Homo sapiens: one gene and its partners. The protein of the gene in region 1 purifies or fractionates together with the protein of each later gene. This does not show direct contact. Each region holds a gene or a part of one and is shown in the gene's direction. Other genes may lie near its edges.

Region 1 (3,500 bases):
TGGGTTACCTGGAACCTAACCTTGGGAAGATGATCTGTCAATGGAGGTAAGCTGGGCAGGGCCTTGGGAATGAAAGGGAACCATCAGTGGTATTAGAGCTGGGGCCTACAATAAGGACCACCACTGCAAGGGGTTGAGGTAGGGTTCTGGGTGCTAAGACACTCCTCTTGGATAGTTTGCCAGGTTCCTTGGTTATAGAGGAGCTACGTTCTGTCCCTCAGGTCACGCGGCTGAACAGAAGGCCTCCCAGAGTGGACCCAGCACTACCCGTTGGGTTCTGTGTTCACCTAACATTCTTCTCATCAATGGCTTGATCTGGTTGTAGAGGGAGTACCCTGGGTAGTTGTCTGGCTCAATCCAGTTTTCTATCCAGCTCCCTCTCCTTCAAAAGGCAACCACATGACTTAAACACACAGCTCATGTGGTGTTTGTTCAGTGTGTGTCACTTTTCCTAGGTTGACAGAGGTCTGAGAGAGCAGACAAAGCTGAGTTTTCTGTCTGCAAAGTGGAGTAGCAGCCAGATATTTGGCATTAGGGGACCTGTCCCTCCCAGCTAGGCACATGGGACATGACCTTTGGCCATGACTCCTGAGGGGTGTCCTTCTCTGTGACATCTCTTCTGAAGTACAGCATGGCTTTGTGACATCTCAGGCATCTGGGCTTCCTCAGAGTGTGAGGGCCTCAGAAAATACCTCAGAAATGAACGGAAGAGATGATACCAGACAGCAGCCTGGTGAGGCAGGCAAGTGTGCTGATTTTTTGCTGCCCCAGGCCTCTCTCCAGGTGGCCTTGGGAACACATCATCACCCTGAAGAAGGCCCTGGTGATCCCTCTTCCTTTCTCTCCTCACTGGGTTCCTGAATTCGACATCAGTCCTTCAGATAGCAGCAACATCCTGAATGAATCCAGCTCTGTTTTCTTGCTCTCCATCTTTAGATGTGGACATTTGGAAATATGTTCGTTTTCTTTTTTAAGTAGAGCACTGTTAATCAAGATGGGAAGAAGCAGTGTTTCTGCTTTTTTTCCAAGTGAGAATTAGAGAAAAGCTCAGAAATCCCAATTTACTTCAGAAAGACTTGAAAAATTATACGTAATAGACAGTACAACAGTAAAGAAAATTCTGAAAAAAATATAAGTATAAGCAACTCAAATCATTCCACCCTGTGATGCCATTTTCTTTTCTGAGTATTACCTTTCAACCCTTGTATACATGGAGACATAGCTGTCTGCAAAGTTAGTGATCATAGTATACAAATCCTTTTGTATTCTTTTTATTTAATACCATGGCAGTTTTTCGTATCACTACCCAGTCTTCATGATTATTTTTAACAGCTGAAGAATAATTTATTTTCAGCATGTGCTATCTTTTATTAAGCCACTTTCTTGTGTATTTTGTTTTTTTAAAAAATTCTTATTGTATTCTTTGCTGTTAGAGACAATGATGGAATGAGCATTTGTATATAATTTTTTCTTCTCCTGTTGAATAACTTGTCTAGGATAAATTCCCAGAAGTGAGACTGCTGGATTATATGGTATGAACATTTTTGTGATTCATTTTATGTTACTATGTATTTTTTCCAAAAGGATCGTACCAATTTATTCACCAGCAATATGTACAGTTTCCAGTTTCATTTTAACCTCCCTAGCCTTGGGGGTTTTTGTTTGCCTTTATCGGTAGTTTTTGATATATGGCATTTAGGGGAAATCCATAGGATCAGGCGAGGTTTTCTTCAGCACAAAGTAAAAATAATCTAATTGGAAGATTAGGAATTTTTAGGAGTCTTTCTTTCCTGTGTTGGATAGAGTGTTCTACATGGCAATTACATTCCTAAAGCTTTATTGGAAACTAGGGTGGAAAACCTTGTTGCCATTAAACTCAGAGTAACAAAACGTGAAAAGAGAAATTCTAGAGTCTTTGAGAACAGCTTATACAATAGCAGAAAAAAGGAGTTACATATTTGGGTTTTACTTTAATTTCAGAGGATAAAATTAATGGAAAGAACACAGAAAGTTGGGTTCATTTCCTAGTTCTGTTTTTTTTGTTGTTGTTTTTAAAGATAAGGTCTTGTATGTTGCCCAGGCTGGTCTCAAACTGCTAGCCTCAAGCAGCCCTCCTACCTCGCCCTCCCAAAGCACTGGGATTACAGGCATGACCATCACGCCCAGCCTCCTAGTTCTGTTTTTACTCACTGAATTATATTGAACAAATAGCATGTTCTCTTTGAATCTGTTTTCTTGTCTGTATAATGAAAAAATAATGAGATTCATTCATTCGTTTTATAAATATTAATTGAGTGTGTACTATGTTCCTATGCTAGGTGCCAGGCAAGTGAGGGGCAGGTACAATTGTGAACAAAAGTCCTTCCCTAAGACTATGTCTAAGACATACATTAAACAAGCAAACAAATAATATATCACATATAACACAGCCTAGCAAAGAGTAGGTACTCTCATTACCTACTATTTCTCGCTCACATTTTCTCCCTAAAATGAGTGTTATTTTTATGATAATTTGTTCTGTACCCTTCATGCAAACAATCTTTGAAATTCTTATTCCCAATGTGATGTGGAATGACTTGTTCCATCATTCCTTAGCAAGGTTAAGGTACTCCAGTAAATATTTTCCTTTTCTTAGATATAGATGTGGTAAGATGTTAAAAGGAGGTGGTTTGTGGCAAGGCAATGTTTTAAAATTTAACTTTTTGTTAACATTTTAAAATGTAAATAAAAATAATTTCCTGGGTTTTGGAAAACTAAGATTTGGAGACATTAGACCCACATTCTTTTAAGTAAAGCACTTCGTTCATATAGATTGCCCAGCCCCTGTAGGCATTTGAATTTACTACCTTGGCTTAAGTACAGTCTTGCAAACTCTGTCCCCTACACTCTTCTAGGTCAGGGGAGATAAGAAGGAGAGGGAAGAACTAAGTTATGATGAAAGCAGCCATAAGAAGGGGGCAGAAATGGGGTCATTTGACCCTTCGTCTTCTCAAATCAGAAACTCATTGTGTGGCTGTGCCTTTAAATTAACCATTTACTTTCATGGAGTTACTTCAATTGCTCTTCTAAGACATAAATGAGATGCCTGTTTCTTTATATTCTTACCCTGTGTAGTACTTGCTGGTGGTGGAAAGCCATGCTACCTCCCTGAATTCCCAGGATTGTGATGCAAGGTCTAATGCAGTAGTTCTCCAAGTGTGGTCTGTAGACCTTATGGGGTGGGGGGTCCCTGAGACCGTTTCAGGGAGTTCACAGGTCAAACAATTTTAATAATAAAGCTAACGTGTTATTTGATCTTTTCACTGGGTTGACATTTGCACTGATGGTGCCAAAGCAATGTTATGTAAAACTGCTGATGTTTTGGGCACCAAACTGGAACAAAACCTTATATTCTTTACCACTAAGCATCTGCCGGTTAAAAAAAAAAAAAAGAAGTTTACCTTAAGAATGTCCATCCATGATGAAGTGGTAACAATTTTTATTAAATCTCAATCCTGAAA
Region 2 (3,500 bases), on another chromosome or scaffold:
TTGGGATTTAAGCACACTTTGTTTCTTCTCTCAACCCTTGGTTTCTTGATACCATAATCTCTTAGCTGTCTTCTTTCCCTCTTAACGCTATGTTGGCTTCTCTTGTCAATGTCTGTAAATTTTGATGTTCTTCAGGTGTGATGTGTGTGTGTGTATATATATATATATTTGTAAATATATATATACACACACGTATATCTATACATATATATAATTTTCTCATTAAAACTTTGTTTTAATGGGTCTCAAAATTCTGTGACAGATTTTCGGTCAATTTGTTTTCATTAAAAAGTACTGATTTTAAAAACTAGTAACTTATAACTGCCACAAGCAAAACAAAAACAAAAACACCAAAATGGTCCACAAAACATTCTCCTTTCCTCCTGAAGGTTTTATGATGCAGTGTTACCATTAACCAGTCTTTTACTGTTACAGTTAAATGGCCAATTGAAACAAACAGTTCTGAGACCATTCTTCTACCACTGATTAAGACTGAGGTGGCAGGTATTGGGGATATACATAAATAATGTATGCAGATTTACATAAAAACCGTATACAATATAGTCTGAATGAGTTAAGGTCATCTCAGAGTAATTTTGGCCATATATAATTATTGCATTATCAACTGAATTTAGAACCTAATCTAAATATACGTTGTGCCTATAGTATTTGTTGTGCTGCGGGATAATTAAGGAATCAGAGAGACCGAGGGATTTGAGGAGGAATTATTTAATTATTTATGTGCACCGACCCAGTCGGATTAACATCCAAAGAGGACTGAGCCCTGAACAAAGAGTCAAGCTACCTTTTAAGCATTTCGTGGGGCATGGGGAGATCTGTGCAGGGGGAAGCGTATTACAGAAGAGAGAAACAAAGACAGTTATTCAAGTAAGAGATGCATTACATTATTTCTTACTTTTTAAGGAACAACATGTTTTACAACTTGAGATTATCTGTCTAGTGTCCTTGCAGCTGCACAGCTAGAGAAACAGTCTTCACAATGCCTGGGAAAGGGAGAGATAAGGCTCACTAGCCACAGAGAGAAAAACACAGTTAATTTTAAAGGACTCCAGCCCTTTCTCTTCCCAAGGGGAATTGGGTTTTCTTACATACAACTGAGTTTTTGCTTACACAGTCTTTAATTTCTTTTAATTCCTCTTCCTGTAGGGATGTTGGAGTCAAATAGACTTGGGTTCAAATCTTGACTCTGTCACTTAACAGCTATATGCTAACAAGTCCTTCTTAATTTCAATTTTGGATTTTTTTCCTTTTTTATAAAACAGAGATCTTAACCATTTTATAAGATATTTATAAATATTAAGTAAGACAACTCTGCCACTTATTAACCTGTGTGACATCAACAAGTTACTCAATTTCTCTAGGCCTTGATTTCCTCATCTCTAAATTAGAGATAATAGTATTATCTACCCATGTGATTATTAAGGACTAATCTTCTTAGTGCTTAGTTCAATAAGTTGTAGCTGTCATGTAAACCTTTAGTCTTCCAGAAGGTTGTCAAAATCAGAAAGTCTGACAGTCCTATCACAGGAGCTCTCAGGATTCTCCTGCAGGCTGAACACAGAACCCAAAGTGAATATGGATTGGGAAGAATTCCTCTTTCTCCCCAGAACCTGCAGTAGGTCAATGTGTTCATTTTCTTTTCTTCCAAATGGATTGAGGTGATGAGGATAATTTACATAATGTGGGGCTTTTCAGACATGTGTGTCTTACAATTTATAAATACTGGTTAGGGTTTTGTTAGGCTGGGCTGGCAGCCAGCCATAAGGTATGTGTGATAAAGCACATAATACGTGTTCACTATAGTAAGCACCACTGTTCTCAGAAGACTCATTACATGTCAAAGTCTAAAAGAGTCATGATATGACTATGCAATTTATTTTTGTCTGCACTAACCTTATTTTAACTGTCTTTATACTGATTTGTCTTATTTACAAAAAAAAAGAGACAACTCATTGCATACTTGTTATATTTATGTATTTAATAGGCTATGTGGAGGAGATATAGAGCCAAGAAATATTTATGTAAAGTGAAAGCTGCCTGCAAGATTCAAGCCTGGTATAGATGTTGGAGAGCACACAAAGAATATCTAGCTATATTAAAAGCTGTTAAAATTATTCAAGGTTGCTTCTATACCAAACTAGAGAGAACACGGTAATGTATCATAGTTCTGTGGAGAGTGTAAAAGTATTTGTGTGTGATAGCTAAGTCTTTACATAAAATAACACTGCTTATTGATTTTTATTTTAAATATTTGTTATGCTTAATTTATATGGTTGGTTTTGTTGATATTTTCTTTATTAAGGAAACAAAATACATCTCTCGTACTGTCTTGCTTTTTTGAGATAGAGCATAGCCTTTAATTAATATAATCTAAAAATATTATATACTTGATTAATTCAGGTTCATAAGGATTAGAGTAAGGACAGAGACGTAGGAAGTGAATAAAATCATTTAGTTAAGACTTGGTTTTCTTATTAGTGCTTTGGGCCATTTTGCTGGGTGACTTAACTACTGGCAAAATTTGTTTTCTTACTCATTCTTTTTTTCTTTGAACTTTGTATTATTCCTCATACTCTTTGTCATTAATGATGAAGACCCTAATTACCAACCTGTCTATGCTAATTGTATTTCACTATTCCTAGCTTATTTCTCACACACACATTTTCAGAAGCTGTTACCAGATCATCTTTTTTTAAGTTCATAGTATAAGAATTTTTCTTCAGCTCCCAGAGTTGATGAATTATTGAATCAATGATGGTTTTAAAGATGGTTTAGGAAGGCACACTAGTGTGAGAGGAATTTTTGGATGAAGCCCATGGGTAGAAGCAGGGCTTAACATATACAGTTGATCGCATGAAGATAGAAGTAGAATGTTGGTTACCAGAGGCTAGGATAGGGAGAGGGGAGGGGTGGATAACGACAGGCTGGTTAATGGGTACAAAAATACAGTGAGAAGGAATAAGATTTACTGTTTAGTAGCACAATAGGGCAACTATAGTTAACAATAATTTATTGTATATTTCAAAATAACTAGAGGAATAGAATTAGAAGTTTCCTAATAGAAGGAAATGATAAATGTTCGAGGTGATGGATATCCCATTTACCCTGATTTGATCATTACTCATTGTGTGCTTGAATCAAAATATCACATGTACTCTGTAAATATTTACAACTATTATATATCCATAAAAATAAAAATTAAAAAGCATATAAAGATACAGTTGCTACTATCAGCTATTAAGGACCAGTATCTAATTTTCCTGTAACAGATGCTGAATTTTTCTCAATGGTGTTTGGTCCTATTTTCTAAGAAACATGGCAACAAAACAAGCTACTCATTGTACTTTTTCCACATTATCAAGAACAGAGTAGAAAACCTGTCCATTCTCACATTTTATCTCTTAGTATTATGTTGATCCCTAAAATTTAATCTCTAGTGCTCAGATTTTTTAAAATTTTTCTCCAGTTCTGTTTACGAA
Region 3 (3,170 bases), on another chromosome or scaffold:
ACTGGCTGCCAGAAACTCATTGAAGTGGACGATGAACGCAAACTTTGTACTTTTTATGAGAAGCGTATGGCCACAGAAGTTGCTGTTGACGCTCTGGGTGAAGAATGGAAGGGTTACGTGGTCGGAATCAGTGGTGGGAACAATAAACAAGGTTTCCCCTTGAAACAGGGTGTCTTGACCCATGGCCGTGTCCACTTGCTACTGAGTAAGGGGCATTCCTATTACAGACCAAGGAGAACTGGAGAAAGAAAGAGAAGATCAGTTCATGGTTGCATCGTGGATGCCAATCTGAGTGTTCTCAACTTGGTTATTGTAAAAAAAAGGAGAGAAGGGTATTCCTGGACTGACTGAGACTATGATGCCTCGTCACCTGGGGCCCAGTACAGCTAGCAGAATCCGTAAACTTTTCAGTCTCTCTAAAGAAAATGATGTCTGCCAGTATGTTGTAAAAAAGCCCTTAAACAAAGAAGGTAAGAAACCTAGGACCAAAGCACCCAAGATTCAGCGCCTTGTCACTCCACATGTCCTGCAGCACAAACAGCGGCGTATTGCTCTGAAGCAGCCGCATATTAAGAAAAATAAAGAAGAGGCTGCAGAATATGCTAAACTTTTGGCCAAGAGAATGAAGGAGGCTAAGAAGCACCAGGGACAAATCGTGAAGAGACGCAGACTGTCCTCTCTGCGAGCTTCCACTTCTAAGTCTGAATCCAGTCAGAAATAAGATTTTTTGAGTAACAAATAAGATCAGATTCGCAAAAAAAAAAAAAAACCCACAAGGCCCTGTGTGACCAGGCCTCTGCTGACCTTTCCACCTCATCTCTGGCCACTCATGTGATCCTCCCAGCCAGACTTAGCTACTTGAAATTCTCCAGAAGTACCACCAGTTCTTTACACATCTGTTCCCTCTCCCAGCACTGCTCTTCCCCACAGCCTCCTCCTGCTTAACTCCTCACACCCTTCCAGTTTGGCCAACTCCTTCCTGATTCCCTGGGTCCCCCTCCCCATCTTGGCATTGTGATCATGACTTTGGGGTAACCTGTCTCTTGAAAGCAGGGCCAGATCTAACTTAGTTATGAGGTCTGACTCAGGGGCGAGGGTAATTTTTTTTTTCTTTTTTTGAGACAAAGTCCCGCTCCGTCCCCCAGGCTGAAGTGCAGTGGTACAATCTTGGCTCACTGCAACCTGCGGTTCCCCAGTTCAAGCAATTCCTGTGCCTCGGCCTCCCAATTAGCTGGGATTGCAGGTGCTTGCTACCCGTGCCTGGCTAATTTTTGTATTTTTAGTAGAGATGGTGTTTCACTATGTTGGCCAGGCTGGTCTCGAACTCCAGACCTCAAGTGATCCATCTGCCTTGGCCTCCCAAAGTGCTGAGATTACATGTGTGAGCCACCTCGACTGGCCTAATTTTTTGTATTTTTAGTAGAGATGGGGTTTCACCATATTGGTCAGGCTGGATTTTTTTTCTTTTTTGAGATGGAGTCTTGCTCTGTTGCCCAGGCTGTAGTGCAGTGGCATGATCTTGGCTCACTGCAACCTCTCCTGCCCGGGTTCAAGCGATTCTCCTGCCTCAGTCTCCTGAGTAGCTGGGATTACAGGCACCCACCACCACATCTGGCTATTTTTTTTTTTTTTTTTTTTTAAGTAGAGATGGGGTTTCACCATGTTGGCCAGGCTGGTCTGGAACTCCTGACCTCAATTGATCCACCTGCCTTGGCCTCCTAAAGTGCTGGGATGACAGGCGTGAGCCACTGCACCCCGCCACGAGGATAATTTTTGAGTAAGGGGATGTATCAGGGACCAGGCAGCCTTGTGACTTTGTCTTGTGCCTGCAGCCAAGGGGGAGCTCCTGGGCTGCTTCGGGCTCACAGAGCCCAACAGCGGAAGTGACCCCAGCAGCATGGAGACCAGAGCCCACTACAACTCATCCAACAAGAGCTACACCCTCAATGGGACCAAGACCTGGTAAGGGTTCTGGGTGGTGGGCAGGTGGTGAACAGGGGCAAAGGGGCACTGGTCAGACCCCTCACCGACTGTTCCATCCCCAGGATCACGAACTCGCCTATGGCCGATCTGTTTGTAGTGTGGGCTCGGTGTGAAGATGGCTGCATTCGGGGCTTCCTGCTGGAGAAGGGGATGCGGGGTCTCTCGGCCCCCAGGATCCAGGGCAAGTTCTCGCTGCGGGCCTCAGCCACAGGCATGATCATCATGGACGGTGTGGAGGTGCCAGAGGAGAATGTGCTCCCTGGTGCATCCAGCCTGGGGGTAAGTGGCAGCCACTTTGGGAATGGGTGTTGGGTCACCTGCGGATGCGGCTTTGTCAGGCAGGCTCCGTGCTGGGGACGCGGCTCCCTGTGCCTGTGGAGCCCACACAGTGGTGATTCTTACTCAGCCGGACTCGCTGACGTGCTGAAAACTGCCCCCATTTGGTGACCGTCTCGCTCATCCCGGCTCTGCCCGGGACACATGGGCCTGAACCAGCTCAGTCATTTGACTCACAGTGCATCTTCTGGCATCCGTCAGCCTCCTGGCTCTGAGCATCGAACCCAGATGCCAGGCTGGGTGGGACTGTGTGCAAACCGAGTGAGCAGGCACCGAGCTTCAGTGCCAGGGCCATCTGTGATGTGAACCACAACCTGAGTCCCCCTGCGTGGGGTGGCTGGGGAGGAGGCTTTCCCTGCTTCAGAGTTGGTTCTGCATAGGCCCTCTTGGTGTCTCTTGGGTGGGCCTGAGGCGCCATCTCAACCCTACAGGGTCCCTTCGGCTGCCTGAACAACGCCCGGTACGGCATCGCGTGGGGCGTGCTTGGAGCTTCGGAGTTCTGCTTGCACACAGCCCGGCAGTACGCCCTCGACAGGTGTGTGAGGGCTGCAGTGAGATTCTCTGGGGGTGTGGGGCAGCTTGGGTTTCACTCTCTATACCATGGGTGACTCCCCAGCCCCCACCCACCAGGCCTGAGTTCCTTGCTCTGGAATGACCAGTGACGTCCTTCTGAGCAGCTGTGGGCTGAGTCAACGGCAGGGCCAGGGCAAGCTTGGGGGCACTGAGGCAGCCTGGGAAGGCGTCCTGGAGCAGGGGGCCCCAGGACAGGGACGGGGTGGGAGAGTGGGCCTCCCCTCGCTCTTACCCTGCCATTGCCCATGTAGGATGCAGTTTGGTGTCCCACTGGCCAG
Region 4 (4,043 bases), on another chromosome or scaffold:
CACTAAAAATATAAAAATTAGCTGGGCGTGGTGGCAGGCGCCTGTGATCCCAGCTACTCAGGAGGCTGAGGCAGGAGAATCGCTTGAACCCAGGAGGCGGAGGTTGCAGTGAGCGGAGATCGCGCCACTGCACTCCTGCCTGGGTAACAGAGAAAGACTTTGTCACACACACTACACACACACACACACACACACACACACACACACACACACACGAGAAAATGGAACACTGTGGGGGGCCTTTGGATGCGTCCAGAAATGAATGTAGTTCTTCAGATTCTTTTTTTTTTCTTTTGAGACGGAGTCTCGCTCTGTCGCCCAGGCTGGAGTGCAGTGGCACGATCTTGGCTCACTGAAACCTCCACCTCCCGGATTTAAGCAATTCTCTGCCTCAGCCTCCAGAGTAGCTGGGATTACAGGCACGTGCCACCACGCCTGGCTGATTTTTGTATTTTTAGTAGAGGCGGAGTTTCACCGTCTTGGCCAGGCTAGTCTTGAATTCCTGACCCCGTGGTCCACCCGCCTTGGCCTCCCAGAGTGCTGGGATTACATATGTCAGCCACTGTGCCCGGCCTTTTCTCTTTTCTTTTTCTTTTCTTTTCTTTTTTTTTTTTTTTTTGAGGCAAGGTCTCACTCTGTTGCCCAGGCTAAGTGCAGTGGCACAATCATAGCTCACTGTAGCCTCAAACTCCTGGCTTCAAGCAATCCTCCCACCCCATCCTCCTGAGTAGCTGGGACTACAGATGTGCGCCAGCACATCCAGCTAATTACAAATTTTTTTTTGTAGAAACAGGGTCTCACTATGTTGCCCAGGCTGCTCTCGAACTCCTGGCTTCAAGCAGTCCTCCCGCCTTTGCCTCCCCAAAGTGCTGGGATTACAGGCCTGAACCCCCACACCCACCCAGCCAGTACTTCAGATTCTTATCTCTTTGTAAAACCTGGGTCTTCCTAACTCCAAGAAACCTGTCTTCTGCCCGGATTCGAGAAAATTCCAAGGAGGGAGCTGCCTCTCCATCCCTTCCATATGTGCTTCTAGGAAAAAGTTACCAGTCTCACATCACCAGAGGGCTTGAATGAAGAGGCTGCCATCAGCTATTCAAACATTCATCCAATATTAACTGAGCACCTACTCTGGGTGAGGCTTACCAGGGAGCACCTGCCCCACTCCAGACTTTGAATTGCGCCCGTTTCATCACATTCTTTGGTGTCCTGGCAACCAGAGACTCTGATCTGAGCTCCAGCCAGAACAGAGGCCATTCCTCCCTGACTGCTGTGACTCACCACCACCCCAGGCCTCTGAGGACCAGTCCATGTAGCTCTCGGAACCACTGAAAGCTACCCCTTGTCCTTGAGGACACCTGGAACCCCAGCCCCACTGACCCACCCTGGCAGGATGAGCTTCTCACTCACGTTCACCGAGCTGGCCAACATCGCCATCCCACAGTGCGGGGTGCTGAACTTCAAGGCCCTGCACCTCCTGCTGCACGGCATCTTGGAGCACATCCACATGGCCGAGCTCAAGAAAGTCCTCTCAGGCGATGAGGACTTCCTGCAGACCTCGCAGGTGGTCATCATGCCCAGGGAAGGAGACGCCCAGCCTATCCTCAACCCCATGAAGAGGCTCAGCAATGTCTTCGACCACGTGGTGAGCCGCCTCGACAAGTTGGAGAACCAGCTGGCCCTGCTGCAGGACCTGCCCTCCACTGCCCAGCTGCTGGAAGCCAGCCAGGGCACTGCCCGGCCCGTCCAGGACCTGTGGCATCTGATCAAGCTCCGGAAGATGGTGGAGGGTCATGATGAAGTCATGGCCAAGGTACGCCCCCAGCCTCCAGACACTTCTTTTCCTCCCTTCACCACTGGCTCTCTCCTGGGACGTCTTTTTTTTGTTTTTGAGACTCCGTCTCGCTCTGTCACCCAGGCTGGAGTGCAGTGGTGTGATCTTGGCTCACTGCAACCTCCGCCTCCCGGGTTCAAGTGATTCTCCTGCCTCAGCCTCCCTAGTAGCTAGGATTTCAGGCACATGCCACCACACCCGGCTAATTTTTGTATTTTTAGTAGAGATGGGGTTTCACTATGTTGGCCAGGCTGGTCTCAAACCCCTGATCTCAACTGATCCACCTGCCTCGGCTTCCTAAAGTGCTGGGATGACAAGCGTGAGCCACTGCGCCCAGCCTTCTCCTGGGACATCTTGTTGCTTACTCACCTACGATGGGCCATCTCCTTATGCAGAGTGGGAAGAAGGGTGCTTTAGAGTCAGGCACAACCAAAACGCCAAGCTTGCAGCCTCCATCAAGTATTGCAAAGAAGCCAGACACAAAAGGCTACCCAGTGTATGATTCCATTTATACGAAATGTCCAGAATAGGTAAATCCATGGAGACAGAAAGCAGTGGTTGCCAGGGGCTTGGAGGAGGAGAGAATGGGGAGTAATTGCTTTGTGGATATAGGGTTTCCTTTTGGGGTGATGAAAATGTTTTGGAACTAGATGGAGGTGGTAGTTATACAACCTCACTGATGTACTAAATGACACTGAATTGTTCACTTAAAAATGGCTAATTGTACATTATGTGAATTTCACCCCAATTTTTTTTTGAGACAGGGTGTCACTCTGTCATCCAGGCTGGAGTGCAGTGACTCAGTCATGGCTCACTGTAGCCTCGACCTCCCAGACTCAAGCAATCCTCCCACCTCAACCTCCCGAGTAACTGGGACCACAGGTGTGCACCACTGCACCTGGCTAATTTTTGTATTGTTTGTAGAGATAGGGTCTCCTTATGTTGCCCAGGCTGGACTCAAACTCCTAGGCTCAAGTGATCCTCCTGCTTTGGCCTCCCAAAGTGCTGGGATTAGAAGCGTGAGCTACTGTGCTCAGCCTTACCCCAATTTCTAAAAAATGCCTGGAGGAGCTACCATGGGAGAAGTACCAGAGTAGTCACGGTGAACAGGCACGCCCGGCCTAGCAGGGGAGATAGACACAAGTGAGTGAGAATCTCCAAGAACCAGCCCTGTGAGGAGCAGCAAAGAGGCATTCCTTCTGCCTTACAGAAGAGGAAACTGACGCTCAGAGGAGCTCAGTGATTGGCTGAAGGCCCAGCAGCTGGTGGGCAAGGGAGCTGCGCGCTGAGGCGTGGCCTCTGACCCTGGCTCACCTTTGACTGCTGACCCCTGCTAACCCCGACCAGCACGTGGACAGTGTTCAGTTACTGGCAGCCCAAGAAGAAATAAGAAAGGGAAAATAAGCCGAGCACAGTGGCTCACACCTATAATCCCAACACTGGGAGGCCAAGGCGGGATGATCACTTGAGCCCAGGAGTTCAAGACCAGCCTTGGCAGCGTAGTGAGACCTCATCTCTATAAAAAAATGAATAAATTAGCCGGGTGTGGTGGCGTCCACCTGTAGTCTTACCTCAGGAGGCTGAGGTGGGAGAATCACTTAACCCCAGGAGTTGGAAGCTGCAGTGAGTTGTAGTCACTCTCCTGAACTCCAGCCTGGGGGACAGAGCAAGCCCCTGTGTCTAAAAATAGTAATAATAATTTGGCCAGGCACAGTGGCGCACACCTGTAATCCCAGCATTTCGGGAGGCCAAGGTGGGTGGATCACCTGAGGTGAGGAGTTCGAGACAATCCTGGCCAACATGGTGAAACCCTGTCTCTACTAAAAATACAAAAATTAGCTGGGCATGCTTGCGTGCGCCTGTAGTCCCAGCTACTCGGGAGGCTGAGGCAGGAGAATCGCTTGAACCCAGGAGGCGGAACTTGCAGTGAGCCGAGATCGCACCACTGCATTCCAGCCTGGTGACAGAGCGAGACTCTGTCTCAAAAAAAAAAAAAAAAAAAAAATTAGCCAGGTGTGGTAGCAGGCACCTGTAATCCCAGCTACTCGGGAGGCTGAGGCAGGAGAATCACTTGAGCCTGGAAGGCAGGTGTTGCAGTGAGTTGAGATCGCACCACTGCCCTTCAGCCTGGGTGACGGAGAAAGTCTTGTCTCCAAAAAGGAGACCATCCAGCGATGACTGCCTTCCTATCCCTGGAGGCAGCATGTCC

Evidence for each region. Proteins that work in one complex are often made in the same cells at the same time.
Region 2: the proteins of TRIM66 (region 1) and ASPM purify together in Homo sapiens (affinity purification with mass spectrometry, with the first as the bait; one large-scale study listed by BioGRID). This does not show direct contact.
Region 3: the proteins of TRIM66 (region 1) and GCDH purify together in Homo sapiens (affinity purification with mass spectrometry, with the first as the bait; one large-scale study listed by BioGRID). This does not show direct contact.
Region 4: the proteins of TRIM66 (region 1) and C16orf96 purify together in Homo sapiens (affinity purification with mass spectrometry, with the first as the bait; one large-scale study listed by BioGRID). This does not show direct contact.

Annotation. Positions count from the first base shown.
Region 1 is NC_000011.10:8,676,166-8,679,665, reverse strand, and holds part of TRIM66 (tripartite motif-containing protein 66), read left to right. Parts: 5' UTR 1-46; intron 47-1,496; exon of another isoform or gene 1,497-1,532; intron 1,533-3,500. UniProt on the Homo sapiens protein: May function as transcription repressor; The repressive effects are mediated, at least in part, by recruitment of deacetylase activity. May play a role as negative regulator of postmeiotic genes acting through CBX3 complex formation and centromere association.
Region 2 is NC_000001.11:197,094,670-197,098,169, reverse strand, and holds part of ASPM (abnormal spindle-like microcephaly-associated protein), read left to right. Parts: intron 1-2,005; coding exon 2,006-2,172; intron 2,173-3,500. UniProt on the Homo sapiens protein: Involved in mitotic spindle regulation and coordination of mitotic processes.
Region 3 is NC_000019.10:12,894,160-12,897,329, forward strand, and holds part of GCDH (glutaryl-CoA dehydrogenase, mitochondrial isoform a precursor), read left to right. Parts: exon of another isoform or gene 1-752; intron 753-1,832; coding exon 1,833-1,962; intron 1,963-2,045; coding exon 2,046-2,262; intron 2,263-2,750; coding exon 2,751-2,854; intron 2,855-3,143; coding exon 3,144-3,170. UniProt on the Homo sapiens protein: Catalyzes the oxidative decarboxylation of glutaryl-CoA to crotonyl-CoA and CO(2) in the degradative pathway of L-lysine, L-hydroxylysine, and L-tryptophan metabolism. It uses electron transfer flavoprotein as its electron acceptor. Isoform Short is inactive.
Region 4 is NC_000016.10:4,555,097-4,559,139, forward strand, and holds the start of C16orf96 (uncharacterized protein C16orf96), read left to right. Parts: upstream 1-1,243; 5' UTR 1,244-1,393; coding exon 1,394-1,813; intron 1,814-4,043.